2 separate regions of the Homo sapiens genome follow, and region 2 is linked to region 1. Evidence: fine-mapped expression QTL. Tissue or cell type: whole blood. Region 1 holds a variant in brackets; the other region holds the start of a gene. All regions are shown on one strand. Distances are between the middles of the regions.

Region 1 (8,106 bases):
TATGTGCTCGGTGGAGTTGACTGGGCTTAAAAACCCCCGTATTCTCTAGTCTCTGAAACAGCCAATCATGCCTCACTCCTGCCAACAGCTTTTCAAAGTCATCAGGTTGCAAGGTGCGAGCCTCAAGGATCTCTTTCCTCATCTTTCCCGGCAATGAAACCCAAGAACTCCCACTGGAATTCAGATAGGACCAAGGGCTGTCCCCCTCAGAAGAACCACTGGAAAATGCAGGTGATTTCAGCCACCACACTGAGGATGAGCTGGAGTTCTGGCTGCAGTTTAGCATGTTTCCAGGCTGATTTCCTTCCTCTGTGGTAGTGCAGTCCTCGCTGAGGACAGGGAAGAGGATGTTACCGCTTACAGAGGAATTGGGGGTCTCCGCCCTCTGACCAGGCGGCTGTCTCAGAATGCACAGTCTATGAGAGCCGTGCCCATTTGTGCAGGGAACATCCATGCTGTCGAGCAGTTGCCCCTCCTCATCCACTGTGGAGGCATCAGGGTCGATGCCCTGCTCTGCGACTGGGCCACCACTTTTTCTGGAGTCAGGATTTTGAACAGGCCAATTAGGGGTGAAGGAGCTACATGGCAGCATGGAAATGTTTCCCAGAGAATTGTGCAGGACCCTGTGAAAGTCTAAGGGTGCATCTTCAGTGCTTTCTGCTGTTTCTCCTTCTGGGTCAACCCAGGAGGGACTAGCTTTAAATGTAGGGCCTGCGCCTCTTTCACTAATTTCTTCTCCCTGCTCTTTCCCCTGCCTGTCTTTGACATCGCAGTTGGTTTCTGGAAACTCAACAATTATTTCAAAGGCTTCTTCTTTTTGGACTGAAGGATGTGTGCCCATATTCTTGGGCCTACCAGAATCAGAAGACCAAGAAGCAGAACGATATGAGGGTCTGGAGTGAGCAGAAGTATTTCTGGGTCCCATATTTCTGACTTCCTGGATACCTTCTGGAGCTCCTTCTAGAAGCCCTGCACCAGGGGCCAAGAAAATGCCTGGGGTATTATGAGGCGAGAAGGGTGTCAAGGGCATCTGTTGCTGTGGCTGATTTTGAGAAGGCTCCAAATTGTCATTGTTGGGTTCCTGAAGAGAGAGATCATGAAGCTGTGAATGCAATGAATGCATAGCTCTGCCTTCCCTGTCATTCTCTAGCTCCTCAGACAAGGCAGTGGAACACTGAGTGTCCACCAGATGTTCTTTGCCAGGCTCTTTTCTGGCTGACCTGTCGTCAACGTGATAATTCACTTCCTCCCAGCTTGCAGAGGAACTAAACCCTGATAAGTTGCTCCAAGCACTGGAAGTCTGGCTGCCACTCAGAGACTTGTTGAAAACAGCTCCCTCACCATTGCTGTAGTCCGATGGCTCAGTCTCAGTCTCCACATCTTGATCCAAGGAGACTCGAAATGCATCAGAATGGGTCCAGTTTCTCCTTCCTCCCCTTCTGAGTTCCCTCTGAACATTCTTACCCATTAGGGAGGAAGATATTCCTGTGTCTCTTTGACAATGTGGCTTTTCTTGAGTAGTACTCACAGTATCTATGTTTTTTATTTCTGTTTTTAGAGCAGTGATGCAGACTCCTGTTTTTGCATCTTTCTGTTCATTTTTGTTGTTTCCACAATCACTTTCAAATACTTCACACACCGAAGTATGGTGCTGTGAATAGGTGTCAAGGATTTTTTGGAAATCCCCTTGCCCATGCAAGATAAGTTTATCCAACCTGCACTCGAAACTCTCGGGAACATAAGATCTGTCATCTACATTTGAGAAGCTTTGAACTTGTAAATGTTCCTTCACCTGGGCAATCACAGACATAACTTCTTGAGACAGAGCTTCTCTGTCCTGACTTCTGGAGGAAGTGCTGAAATTGTACAGCTTCCCCATTGCTTCCTTACAGAGCTGACTTGCTGCATGGACCGTCCCTGTCTCCCCATGGAGCCTTCTGTGCACTGTGGTGAGACCGAAAGCAGCTTTGACAAAGCTGTGAAGCTCCTGTTTTCCAGTAACAGGCTCATCATCTCTCTTGGTGAGGAGGCCAATCTCAAAGGCCTCTTTGGCTTCACACAGATGTAAGTTTTTCAATTCTGGAGGACAGTCATTTGAACTACTGTAGGACAATAAACACGTGCCACGGATATTCTGGGAAAAATACCAAATACCAAATCAGATATTGAATTGAAAACTGCAAGTGAATCAGGACAAACTTTTCATTTCTGGAGGACAGTCATTTGAAATATTATAGAAAAATGAACACATGCCACATACATTCTAAGGAAAATATACAGGCAAACATTGAGTTAAGGACCCGAGGCCTTTTTGGTGAATCAGAAGAAGGGATGGGGATATAAGTGACTGGCTGGCATGAAGGGGTAAGAAATCAGCTTCAATTACCATCCTATTGTATCTTTGATACATTTTGATTAAAGACGATAGGCTTGTGTTTGTTGCTGTTGTTAGTTTTAACAGAGTCTATCCATGGAAATGGATATAAGTTTCTCTATGCAAATAAGGATGCCATATATGAATACATCATTCATTTAATGTCGAAACAATAGGGCATTGGTTTCCGAATGCATCTGTGCATTTGAATCACCTGGACAATATTCCAAAATTAAAGATTTTTGGATACCAACCTCAGAGATTTGCATTTAGTGGATCTAGGGTGGAGCTCAGAAATGTGTAGTATTTTTTTCTTTCTTTTTTTTTTCTTTTTCTTTTTCTCTTTTCTTTTCTTTTTTTTTTTTTTTGAGGTAGGGTCTTGCTCTGTTACCCAGGGTGGAGTGCAGTGGTGCAATCTCAGCTCACTGCAAACTCAACCTTCCAGGCTCAGGTGATCCTCCCACCTCAGCCTCCCCAGTACCTGGGACTATAGGCACGTACCACCACACCTGGCCAATTTTTATTTTTTAATTTTTTGTAGAGACAAAGTCTCACCATGTTGCTCAGGCTAGTCTTGAAATTTTGGGCTCAAGCCATCCTCCTACCTTGGCCTCCCAAAGTGATGGGATTACAGGCGTGAGCCACCATGCCTGGCAGGAATATGTATTTTGAGAAGGTTCCTTGGGTGATTTTGATGTGCACTCAGGCTTGGGAACCATTGCTTCACAACAGACAACAATCTACCCTTGGGCTGAATTAATTTAGCTCCTAGTAGGCTGTCAAAACTCCGACCAATAAAATTTTTCCATATGTGGTGTGGAGTCTTATCACAATTGCCACTGATGAGACACAAAGCCTGTTTGAAGGTTAAACCTTTCCCTTCTCACTGGTTACATCAGAAAGCACCCTGGGAGAGGTCCTGTGGGGGTTTGAGGAGCGGCTGCATTCGTTTACCACAGCTGTGAGCACGAAGAGCGGCGTATAGGCACTGAAGGCAGCTGCCAGCTTGCAGGCTTCTGCAGCGGACAGCAAATGGTGGTCAAACTCCTTCAGCAGGCTCTGTGAGAAAACAGGAGGCTAAGTGGAATGGTGATAATTAATTATCGATGAGCAAAAAACAGGCTATGAAATGGTTTTGCTTTTCTTTCATGATTTCAAGGGACTCCTCACC[G/A]CAACCCGTTCAGAACAGTGTAAAGAAAGAGTAAGTGGGTCTAAAGACCACAAGGTGTTGACTTTCCTTTTTCCCAGCAGACACACACCTGTGCAAAATAATTTGGGTGAGCTTCTTTGGAGGACGGTGGCAGTTCTTTGTTCAAAGGAACTGCACATTTTGAAGCCAGATTAATTGATTTCTGCACGCTCTTGGCAAAGAGCCCTTTAATTGATGATTTCACAGCAATTAGAATTCATTTATTAATTCTGTAAATACGTATAGAGTACCACCACATTCCAGGGCCTGTTCTAGACACAGGGGAAACAGCAGACAGTGAGCCCTCAAGGAGCTTACTTTCTGTTGTGGGGGAGGGACCAGTCAATATACAAAACAAGTAAAGTGCATAGTATTTGAGATTATGACAAGTGTTCTGGAGAGACAATAAATGGAGAAGGGGTTAGGGAGGCCCAGGATGGGAAGGAAGTTTGCAATTTTAAACGGTCATCAGGGATAACTTCAGTGAACAAGGGACATGATCCTCCTGTTTTGGTCAAACAGAAAAAGCAACATCTTAGATTCAGATTACCATCAGCAAGCTGTATGTGTTCTTTTGCTACACTAATTAGTATTGAGCATGGTTACTGTTGTGATTTAATGGTATCTTTAATAATGGGGTCTTGAATAAAAATGGCAATATAGACGATAATAAAAACTCCATTTAAGCACAGTGTGAAGAGCAGCAGAACATCCTTGTCACTTCTCTGGGCTGGTCAGAGATCTGGGCTCAGCTCCCAGTTCTCTCTCTTACTGGTTGTGTAAACTGCAGAGGTTAGTTAGTTTCTCTGCACTGCATTTTATTTTTCTCTAAAATGGAATGATACACTTTGCTCTACCCTCCTCATAGGGTTTTATTGGATATATATATACTTTCTTGAGTTGTAAAGTGATATATAAAAATTAGCAGTCATTATTATCAAGGACGAGAGCCTGGAACAAGGGACTGATGCTCTGATTTGAACAGATGGTGATTACAAAGTTTTAAAATTATTACCCCTTTATCATCAAGATGGCCCAAGTTTGGAAACTGCATTTTGTTATACTTTGAAAGGAAAGAAGTGAGGCTCAAAATCATTTTGTTGATATTCATTCATTCATTCACCAGTAACTTTCTGAGCACTCTCTGAGTGTCTGTTACAGTGCTAGGCGCTGGGATAATAAAGCCAAATAGGACCCCACAAGACTCCTCCCCAGGATTCCTCCCATTTGTCTAGGAGGCGCAGCACTGAGCTCCCTGCCTCCCAATCTCCTGAGAAAGACAGCCACTAACCAACCACCAAGGACACGATTGACAATTTTACAGGTGATGCCACTCAGTGTTATGATAATTACCAAATTAATTTGTGGATTGTTTTTAAACTTTTCATAATCGTTCTTGCTCATGGAAACAAAGATGTCTGCCAGTATACCTAGCGACGTGGAGAGGCCCTGTAAGAAAAACACAAAGAAGTCACAGATCGGGAATTCACAGTGGATTACTGCTCTCATCCATGGCCTAAAGGCTATGATTATTCCTCCATATGAACTATTTGCCTATTAATATTTTATTACTATGACATTGGAGATACTATTTTTAAAAATCAATTTTTAAAAATACTATTTTTAAAAATACTATTTTTAAAAATACATGTTTTATATCAAACATGTATATAATAATTATACATGTTTATGGGATACAATGTGACATTTTGACATATATATACATTGTGTAATAATTAATACCCTGACTTGGAGATATTTTTAAATTGGCTGCCACAGAGCTTGAAGGATCAACACATCCTAGGGCACATGGGCCTAATGTAAACACAGCTACTTCTCAGTTGGGTTTCACTGGATGATCAATACTAACTTGTCCCTACTGCTAGGCCTGAATAACTGGCCCAAGGAAGAGCTCATATCAGTCTGTATTGTAAAAGAATCGTAGACAGTAATTGCTTACACAGCTCAGGGAAATGTAATAACCAGATGTTTCAGATAATGAGACTATTCCCACAGAATTCCAGAAAATGAAAATGTCAAGTAGGAAGGCAGATGACCTTCCTCAATTTCTTGAATAAAGGTGCTATATAAACAGTTGAAGTCTTCGCCCACTCAACTCAAGAAAACTGATTTTACATATAAGCAACTTGGTCATCTCAACTTTGCTATGCAATCAAGTAAAGAGTAAATATATAACAAAACAGATAAATGAATGGACCAGTAGAGATAAATATATAAATGGACAGTTACAAATGATTATAAGAACACCATCTATGCACCAAGAGTCTAGCTGTGAGTGAGGATGAAGCAAGACACATAAGGAAGCTACTAACTGTACCTGGCCCTATGCTTGTGAAAAATAAATAAAAATAGGACAGATGAAATTGATATATGAGAAATGGACTTCTGTCATGAAGAGATAATCATCCAAAGACAAATACAGGAAAGGAGAAAAAGAAGCACTAGACAAACCACCTTTTTATCCGGCTGAGGAAGTGCCAAATATCCTACAATGGAGGCCCATATTAACTCTGCTGCTTCGTACCACATCCCTGAAAAAAAAAAGAGGGGCGGGGAGAGGGACAGGGGAGGAACAGCTAGTATCTGTGCTCTTGTATAGAGAAAACCTTTGAAAACAAATACAGAACCAAGACTCATTAGATTCTGTTAGGAAAACTTAGGCTTAGATTAGATTGACACAGCAATGTTTTTCCAGTTGTAATATAGACAATTTTTCCATTTCACTGGGAAACAGAATTATTATATATTTGTATATATAATATGTGTAATATATGTAGTTATCTCAGTTTTTTACAAAAATAATAATTGCCACCTCCTGTTAAAATTTCTCAAACCATTATTTTGCATTCTAAAGTATATTAGCATTCTATAAACTTGAAAAATTCATGAATACCTTAAGGAATGAACGAAAACAGTGTCACGGTGGGTATAGTATAAGGTGTCACCATATCACATGGAGTCCTGCTGAACTGAGTCAGATGCTAGAAATAACACTGGGAACCCTACAGTTAACATTACAATATACAACCGTGAACCTCTCTAACAAAACTCACTAGAAAAAAACACATTTTATTAATATTTGTGACACTCCTAGGATCTTAAATGCCATTCTCTTTTCGATGAGGAAACTAAGGCAAGTGGAAATTAACAATTTTAGCCTGATAAAAGAAGAAAATTCCACAGTGAAACCATGCAGCCAGGCTTTGTAAATGAGCCTTGAGAAATGCAAGTTTTACATGATTGTACCCAGCTTTTGCAGAATCTGCCCTCTGATCTGTATACAGACCGACTGCACCAGGACCTTGTCACTTTCATTTCTGTACAGCCAGGTACCTAAAAGAAAAGATGAAAATTCCCTTGAATTATCAGAGATATAGCCTTGCAAATTAAAACTATTTTCACAGAAGTCTTCATGAGCACATGTGACATCATTTTGAGAAACAATCTCGTCTCTACATTTAGAATCAGGTCCAAACTTCTTGCTGTAGTCTAAGGCTCTGCAGGAACTGACTCCTGTCTGGTCTCCAGTTCCCCTACTTACTCTCTGTCCACTCTACTTTATTTTGCCTCCTTGTTATAGGGCTGGCCTCTTGCTTCATGGCAGCTGCACTTACCACTAGCCCTGCTTGGGATTCTCTTTCCTCTGGCTTCTTAAGAAACCAGATCCTTCTCCTTCAGGTCTCAGCCTCAGTGCTTTTCCTCAAAGGCCTCCACAGAGTAGTATTTCTACACTGTTACCCCCACTGTCTTATGGTTGCTTTGCGGAGCGTGGGGTGGATCCCATCTGAGGAAAATTTGTTTGGATGTCAAAACTGATGACTGCACACATGTACCAAGAGGGTATGAGAAGATTTATTGCTCACATAATGAGACTTTCTAGGGTAAGTAAGGCTAGCACCTAAGCTGCTCCTTTGATTCAGGCAGGGAGTGGTGAGCGGCTTTGCTTTTCACTGTGATTGGGGTGTGGGGCCGGGTAAAGGTTCCTGTAAGCTGGGTTTGGGTGTGTGGATGAAAGGGCTTTTTGTTGTTTGTTTGTTTGTTTTAATCGGACTGTCCAGTGTGAGGCAAAAGTAAAAAAGGCTGTGGCCTGAAAACTGTCAGTGGTCGGTCAAACATCAAAAATAGAGGCAGACTCTTTACTACCCCCTCACCATTCTCTGTCACATCAGATAATATTTATTTTCTTCCTAGCTTTGAATCCTTGTGTGCGTGCGTGTGTGTGTGCACACACACATGATGACAAGAGTGTATACTGTAGTTTAGTGATGGTGGCCACAAGTGAGGGGTGTGTGGTTAATATTTGGATTCCAAACTGTCTCCCCACTAGAAATGTCCACAAGTTTCAGGCAGTTTGAGACCTCACATCCAAGCATGCTGAGTTTAAAAGTCCAATGGAAACTGTGCTCAACTTATTGGTAAACTTGCTAACTTAAATGCCCAGAAATTCAGACAAGATATCTGAAGCCTTAAGTTATTTGTTACCTAACTATTAGGTCTTGCCTCCTTTCATGGATAATTAAAT
Region 2 (8,106 bases), 130 kb after region 1:
GTATATACAAAGACATGACAAAATTGAATATAAGTACAATATGTGCAGATATAAATTACTAAATCCAAAATATGGAAATCCATAAGAACAAGAAATGAGTTAAGAGGTTATTTGCACACAGGTCAGGCCAAATTTCCATTCCCCCTTCCCTGCCTTTTTTTTTTTTATCTTTAAGCCAAAAGAATTATTAGACTGAAGTAAAAGCTACAGTTGACAGAGAAGCAATCAACACAAGAAAAATGAACCAATAGTAAGTGTTTCAACTGGTATTTCCTTCTCTGTTCACTGACTCCGCTGCACCTGTTTGTTCCTAGCACTGAGACTCCGTCCTCTCTTCTTTCACATAGCTGGTTATTTGTATGCCAAATAAAAAGAAGGAAAAACTTTTATCTTCCAAAGCTGCATAGTTTTATTTACTATATATTATTAGCAATATAGTTCTATTTAATAAACTATATTTGTTTTCTCAAAAAAGATATAAGTATATTATATAATAATTTAAAAATTTTTTGTAAGAATATCATGTTATGTAGAAAGAAATAGAAGGAAGGGAAAGAATCTATCACTGTAAGACAACAATCACTTTTAGAATATTTCTGAATTTATATCTATACCATTTTATGTAAATACTTGCATGCATACAAGTTATTCAATCCTGAGTCTGTTTTTCACTTAGTATTTTCTGTGCTGGTACTATTTTTTATCCTATCATGTTTTATGGGTACAGTATCTTTTGCTTAACCTCCCCCTTTTATGAGAATGCTTGCAATTATTTGTTATTACGACTTTATGATGAACATGTTTGCGAATTTTTCCCTTGTCTAGAATTATTTCCCCCTTAGGATGGATTCCCAGAAATGAAATTATTGCATATAGCCATTGGCACATACTATGACCCATTAGTAGCCCTTGATCTAGATAATGTTTAAAGTCCCCCCTGGCCCCTGAGTTCAGAAGTTCAGTGAAACAAGCAGAATGAACCTGTAGTATTCAAGCTGAGACATTTCACCCTTTCTATCACTCTTATTTGAAAAAGTATTGGCTATCTTCTGCATCCCTTCAATTATATGATAATTTACGAGGAAATATAATAGTTTATTAGGCTACAGGTGTGATAAACGTTTGATAAAATATTTCTCTGTCAAATACTTTGTACATCTATACTTAGGAAATTGAACAGATTGCATTGTCAACTGAGCTCTGTAACCAAGGCCCAGTAAAATTCAAAGATACTGCACTGGCTAAGAAAATATCCACTTCTCAAATGCATTAGTGTAGCATGTCTGAAACTTTAGCCATTTGCATGCCATCTTCATAATTTTTGCCAAATCTGCAGATTACCTGTAATATTATTTATTTAATCATTTCCTTAAAATCAATAGTAAATTAGCTCAACTTCTTACTTAACACTTTCCTGAACAACAGTATTCATGAAATTCTAGGTTTTATAAGCAAATTATGTTAATTTATATTAAGCTAGCAAATAACTCAAAATTTTGAAGTTTAGACATGTACTGCCTAAAATCAGTAGCATGTATACCATACTTAGGAAAAGTTGTATTTGTATGTATCTGATATTTAAGTTATAATCATCTCTTCTTTTCTTCAGACATAGAAGAATGATAGCACCAGATAATATTCTTTCTTTTAAGTTTGTCTATCCCACAGTTCTCTATAAATAAAGCATATTACAACATTCTGCAAAAACAGTTGTCACCATCAATAACAAGAAACAAAGACTCCCCCATATAGAGAGGCAACAAATACAATACAAAATACAAAAAAAACAAAAATATGGAATATATTTTCACCAAAAGTTTAAATGCTCATTCCTTTAAGAGTTCTTCAATCCATAGATATTCAAAATTTCAAGAAAGAAAATCATTTACAATGAACAGCTTATGCCAAAAAGCCATCATTCTCTGCAATAGATTAGAGAATAATAAAAGCAATTCATGCCTTGTGTTCATGGGAAAGGGATCAGTAAAATTGTTTGGAATAGAAGGAGCCATGGAATTTCAGAAATATCTTGAAATGCACAAACTTATTCTTAAGGAAAACTTCAGGCTCTAAATCCAAACCTAGATCACATGGCACTTGCTGGGAGGTATTGTTACAGCTTAACACATCAGCAAAGCTCATCACAGTATTATTATATATGATAATGCCTAATATCCATCATAATTTACACATGCCTTTTCTTTACAGTTTAAAATAGATTTTGAAAAGTTTAAAGTAATTATTGGCTTCCTACTCATGCAGATAGAGATGCTATACAATTTTGGTGTCTTCTTGGCGGAAGAAATTTGAGAGATTCATCTCAGATTTAAAAGATCTTTGATATGGGGAATAAGTTATTTCTAAAATAAGTTTAAGTATTTTGTTTCTCTTGAGGCTTGAGGTTGATGGGGTGGGAAGGAGGTGGGAAGAGAGAAGTAAATTGTTTCGGTCAGCAGACAAGGACTGGACTTGACATTGGTTCTAGAGACTAGAGTGTATCCCAAGTGCATAAATTATACCCCAAATTAAATGGATATTGTTTCTTATAAGAGAATTAGTGGCACAAAGTAAAAAGAAAGTAAAAGGGAGAGAGAGAGAGACAGAGAGAGAGAGAAATATATATCGCAAGCAGAGATGCTATTATATTGTGGCATAAAGTCCTCTCCTTCCTGATCCTGCCTGTTTGTACCCTCACCCATCCTCAAATCCCAAACCATCTTAAAGGTTTTAATTTGTGGCTTTTCAAAGTACTCTAAAGTACTAATTTCAAACACTAGAATTTTTTAATTAAAGGATTTTTCTAAATAGACATGCAAAGGAATTTAATTTTTCTGGATGCTTTGTCTCTAAACAATGCTTCCACGCACTCAGAATTCCCGTCAATTCACCCATATGAGACGAGTAAGTCTCGTGCCTTATCTACCTGTTTCCTAGCAAAATTACTGATGCTGTCATAAAAGTGGTAGTTTCTATTATTACCTATGTATTCCAGGCAAAAGTCATAGAGTTTTTTTTTAAACAAATAATCCTAACAATCCTTTAATTAAACATCTCAGTTAAGTGACAAGACCAGAAGCTCAGTGACTTAAGAAACTTGTTATTAAAACCTTATGAAAAACTGGTTTGCCTTCTCCCCTTCATAATGACTACAGTTTACCATTGTAGGTAACTTTTCCCTTCTCTCCCTCCCCTTCCCCACTCCACCCCCTTCACCCCACCAACTCATCCTCCCCTTTCTGGAAAGTTTCTATTATAGAAGTGCAAAGGTTCTTAGAGCTCTAAAGTTATTTAAATATAAACAAGATCAGCAGATGGAAACTGAGTCAACACTTAAGACAAATACTTCCTCATATATTATGCCATCTACTGCGTTTTGTCATTTAAAGGATGATACTCACTTTTATCTTAAAGAGGAAAAGTACTTTAAGACCAGCAAATCTAACTCTGAGCAGAGTTAATTCTGGTACAGCCTCTCTGAAACACACTGTTTCTCATAAACGGCTTCAGTTTCAGGAAGTAGGAATTAAAAAAAAAAAAACAACCAATCCTGTGACTGTCTCAGAATATGGTTGTGTAATTCAATTCCGGGACTTTCAGCAATCTTGCACCATAAGACACACCCCTTTAGGAATTGCTTCGGTGAAAGGTATTCTGGGAGCTGTATTACTACAGAAAAGTTCCTTCTCCTAATGAAAGTGCAAGAAAAACTTATTATTTAGACTAAGAATGGAGAGTCCTCTTAGAGCCAAGAAGAGAGAATGTCAGTAAGAAACAATGAATATGACATTGTTGAAATCTGTTAGCAAAAGACAGATGCACATTAAGGCTTCATTCTGTGCTCTGTCTTAGAAGTGAGCTTGTTATCACAGAGACACATATATTGCTGAACTGGAAAATAAAGTTAGGACTTTTTGGATAGAATATCTGATTAGGCTGACTAGTTTGACAGTGAAAAGTGTCTTATTGAGTTACACAGTGGACATTGTCCTTCCATGGAACAACTGAAATCTGCAACTCGAAATTTTGACAAAAAAATCAAAAGTACCTAAGATTTCTAAATGTCAAAATATATTTTATTGGAAAAGTTATTGACATAAACAATATTTTAATTTTCTCAATCCTTTTTGAGCCTGCTGGGTTAAAGAAGTTTCCTCTAGAGTGAAGGAATAATAGGTTTTATTAATAGTCATTTGATACATTTTGGTAAAGCCTTTGGTATACTTCCTAGAAACTGAGAGAGTGAAGGACTCCAAAAGCTGGGTCATAAATGCTTTGGCAAGTCAATTGTTTACAACAAAATAGGAGGAAATAGTTGAATAGTCAGTTGCTCGATCACTTAAAACACATTTTTTTTGTGTGATAGATCGCTATGTAATGTTTAATATATGACCTTAGAAGTTTAAATAACCAAATGGCATTGCTATAACAAAATTCTATCTCTATTTATTTATGTAAACACAGTTCCTCTCCTCTTCCATGTGTATATTTTTGTGGAATGTTGTTTTATTCCAACTATAAGTAACATTCAGCTGTGAATTAATTTTTTAAAACTCCAGAAATCTTATGGAGAAGTGACACTTGAATAAATTTTATCACTTAATATTCATCAAAACGTACCATTTTATTTTTGTCTTCTTCATCAATTATGAATCAATACTTGTACAATTCAATCTTTAAGAAAGTTTAATACTTAGAGTCTATGGTCACAGAAAACAGAAATGTTTAATTTCTTTTTTCTTTTCTATTTTTTTTTTTTTTTTTGAGATGGAGTTTCGCTCTTGTTGCCCAGGCTGGGGTGCAGTGGCACAATCTCGGCTCGCTGCAGCCTCTGCCTCCTGGGTTCAAACGATTCTCCTGCCTCAGCCTTCCGAGTAGCTGGGATTACAGGTGCCTGCCAGCACGCCCAGCTAATTTTTTGTATTTTTAGTAGAGGTGGGGCTTCACCATGTTGGCCAGGCTGGTCTCGAACTCCTGACCTCAGGTCTGTCTGCCTCGGCCTCCCAAAGCACTGGGATTACAGGTGTGAGCCACCACACCCAGCCAGAAAGGTTTAATTTCAATATATACTTTTTTTGAGAGACATGTTGCCCAGGCTGGAGTGCAGTGGCATGATCTCTGTTCACTGCAACCTCTGCCTCCTGGGTTCAAGCGATTCTCCTGCCTCAGCTTCCCAAGTAACTGGGACTACAGGCACCCGCCACCACGCCCAGCTAATTTTTGTATTTTAGTAGAGACAGGGTTTCACCATATCGGCCAGGCTGGTCTCGAACTCCTGACCTCTGGTGATCTGCCTGCCTTCGCTTCCCAAAGTGCTGGGATTACAGGCTTGAGCCACTGCACCCGGCCTACATATTTTTACTGTAAAGAAATATGACAAAAACTTTCAAGTATATAAACTGTTTTATACTAGGATAAACTTCTATGGATGAAGTGAAATGAAACAGAAGGTTACGGAAATACAGGAATGATATAAAATTTCCAATTGTTAAAAAAGATTTGTACATGTGTCTTTATTTTTAAATTTTTTAAATTTTAAACTTTTTTGAGATAGGGCTGTCACCTGGGCTGGAATGCAGTGGCACAATCACAGCTCACTGCAGCCTTGACCTCCTGGTCTCAAGTGATCCTCCTGCTTCAGCCTCCCAGGTAGCTGGGACCACAGGTGTACACCATCACACCTGGCTAATTTTTGTTTTTGTTTTTTTGTTTGTTTGTTTTTTGTAAAGACAGTGTTTCTCCATGTTGTCCAGACTGGTCTCGAACTCCTGGGCTCAAGTGATCTACCCATCTCAGCCTCCCAAAGTGTTGGGACTATGGGAGTGAGCCACTGCGCCCAGCCTGTACATGCGTTTTTAAATGGATGATGGGGAACATCAAATCACTAGGATATAAAATTTGTGTTGGATACATTTAAAAGAGTAATGTATGAGTTATGTTTATTCAACGTCAGATTTAGACCCTTTGTATCTAAAGTTATAATGAAAGATGAATATCGACTTTATGTGAAGGAATTATTGTCTTTGCAAAATTCTATTTGGGGGTAGGGGAGCAAAAATGTTGGAAATACAGTGTTTAGGATGAAGGGCTGTACATTTCAGAGCCTAAAAAAGGGCACTGTACACCTGAGTATGGAGAGAAAGGCAATGGCACTGATAGAAGAGGAGGGATCTCATAGGAGATATTATCTTTCTTACAGTTTGGACAACAGTCAGATTGTCTTCAACAGGGATTCCTGGTAAGATCCTTAGAGTCATGTAAAACACAAAGACAAAATGGCTCATTTATAATCCAGTGGTGAGTTTTAGTAAGATTTCAAAGATGGAAGTTTCATTACACAAATTTCAACTATTTTAAGTGATTGAGATGTACACCTATATAAGGAATACATTATGACACGCAGGAAAACTGGCTGCAGCATCATACTCATTTTGATTTTCTAGGATTTATCATCTTGAATATAAAATATAAAATGCTGATACAAGCTGACATCATTCGTTCATCTCAATAACATGTTTAGGGAATCTTTTGTGTCAAGTGCTACATTGGTGCTACAGATTCAGACTGTGCACACAAGCAATGCACTTAAGGCAATCACAGTGACTGATGGATTAGTAGTGATGTGGCCAGAAATTAGTTGGAAAAAATTGGCAAGAGTTGGCTCATAATAGGAGGTCTTTGTGTTTCATTTTAAGGAGTTTGGATATTTATATTGACAACATAGAAAATTTGGGCCAGGCGTGGTGGCTCACGCCTGTAATCCCAGCACTCTGAGAGGCCGAGGCGGGCGGATCACGAGGTCAGGAGTTCAAGACCAGCCTGGCCAAGATGGTGAAACCTTGTCTCTACTAAAAATACAAAAATTAGCTGGGCGTGGTGGCGGATGCCTGTAGTCACAGCTACTTGGGAGGCTGAGGCAGAGAATTTCTTGAACCCGGGAGGTGGAGGTTGCAGTGAGGCAAGATTGCGCCACTGCACTCCAGCCTGGGCAACAGAGCAAGACTCCATCTCAAGAAAAAAAAAAACAACAGAAAACAGAAAATTTCAAAGAATGTAAAATCATAAAACTGTTTTAGAAAGAATACTTACTGTTGTGGGAAGGTTGGAGTATGGAGCAAGGTTCATGCAAGGGAGGGATCCTGGTGGTGGGTGGATTAGGAGGCAAGACTGGAATTAGGAAAATGAGTTAGAAGAGTACTGCAGTATTGTAGAGAGAAGTGATGACTAGCCTTAATTAATGGCAGTAGCAATGGAATAAAAAGGAAGGGAAAGAAATATTTAGGAAATAGAATCACAGGCCTGGGTGAGAGACACAGAAATATGGGTAAATGACTTAGAGGCAGTCAAAAAACTATAATTGTAGTTAGATATTACCAAAGGGGAATGTACAGGATAGAAAGAAGGCCACAGAGGTGGAAGTTGGTAATACTGGCATTCACGCAGAAAAAGAGAGATCCATAGAGGAGATGGGTAAAGAACGCTTAGAACAGTAGTAAAAAAACCAAAACAAAGTATATCCTAAAAACAGGACTGGCAAGAGACTTTGCAGGGCCTCTTGTTCAAAAATATTAAGCATTTCAGGTTGATGATAGCCGATATAAGCATGGGACTCTGAGTGCAGGGCCCTATGGATTGCACAGGTCACACACTCAGGAAAGCCTGCTTAAAAGCCAAGTAGATGGAAGTGACAGTGTCAATGAAGTGAAATTGGTCAACAAGAACAAATGATGCAGAGAAGTGAAGTAGGACGAGAACAGAAAAGTGTCCTTTGGCTTGGCAAGTAGGTCAAGGATGGATATAACAAGAACAAATCAGTAAAGCAGTGGCAGAAAGCAGATGATGGACTATTTTAAAAATCCTAGGCCGGGCGCGGTGACTCATGCCTGTAATCCCAGCACTTTGGGAGGCCGAGGCGAGTGGATCACCTGAGGTCAGGAGTTCGAGAACAGCCTGACCAACATGGTGAAACCCCATCTCTACTAAAAATACAAAATTAGCCAGGGGTGGTGGTGGGCACCTGTAGTCCCAGCTACTCAGGAGACTGAGGCAGGAGAATCGCTTGAACCCAGGAGATGGAGATTGCAGTGAGCCGAGATCACACCACTGCAC

What was found. PIP is the estimated chance that this variant, and not a neighbour inherited with it, causes the effect.
Region 2: ALPK1 starts here. The variant in region 1 is fine-mapped to the expression of ALPK1 in whole blood (TOPMed, PIP above 0.99).

Annotation. Positions count from the first base shown.
Region 1 is chr4:112,424,476-112,432,581 of GRCh38, reverse strand. ALPK1 (alpha kinase 1) reads right to left here. Exons shown (of 16, transcript NM_025144.4): 7 at 6,831-6,917; 8 at 6,039-6,115; 9 at 4,917-5,012; 10 at 3,329-3,433; 11 at 1-2,134. Among named protein-coding and RNA genes, the nearest start is that of NEUROG2-AS1, 87 kb to the left of the region's middle. The variant G/A (reference allele first, on the strand shown) is at 3,546.
Region 2 is chr4:112,292,762-112,300,867 of GRCh38, reverse strand. It overlaps ALPK1 (alpha kinase 1), which reads right to left and starts at 3,499. Exons shown (of 16, transcript NM_025144.4): 1 at 3,399-3,499. RefSeq lists an enhancer at 3,441-3,735.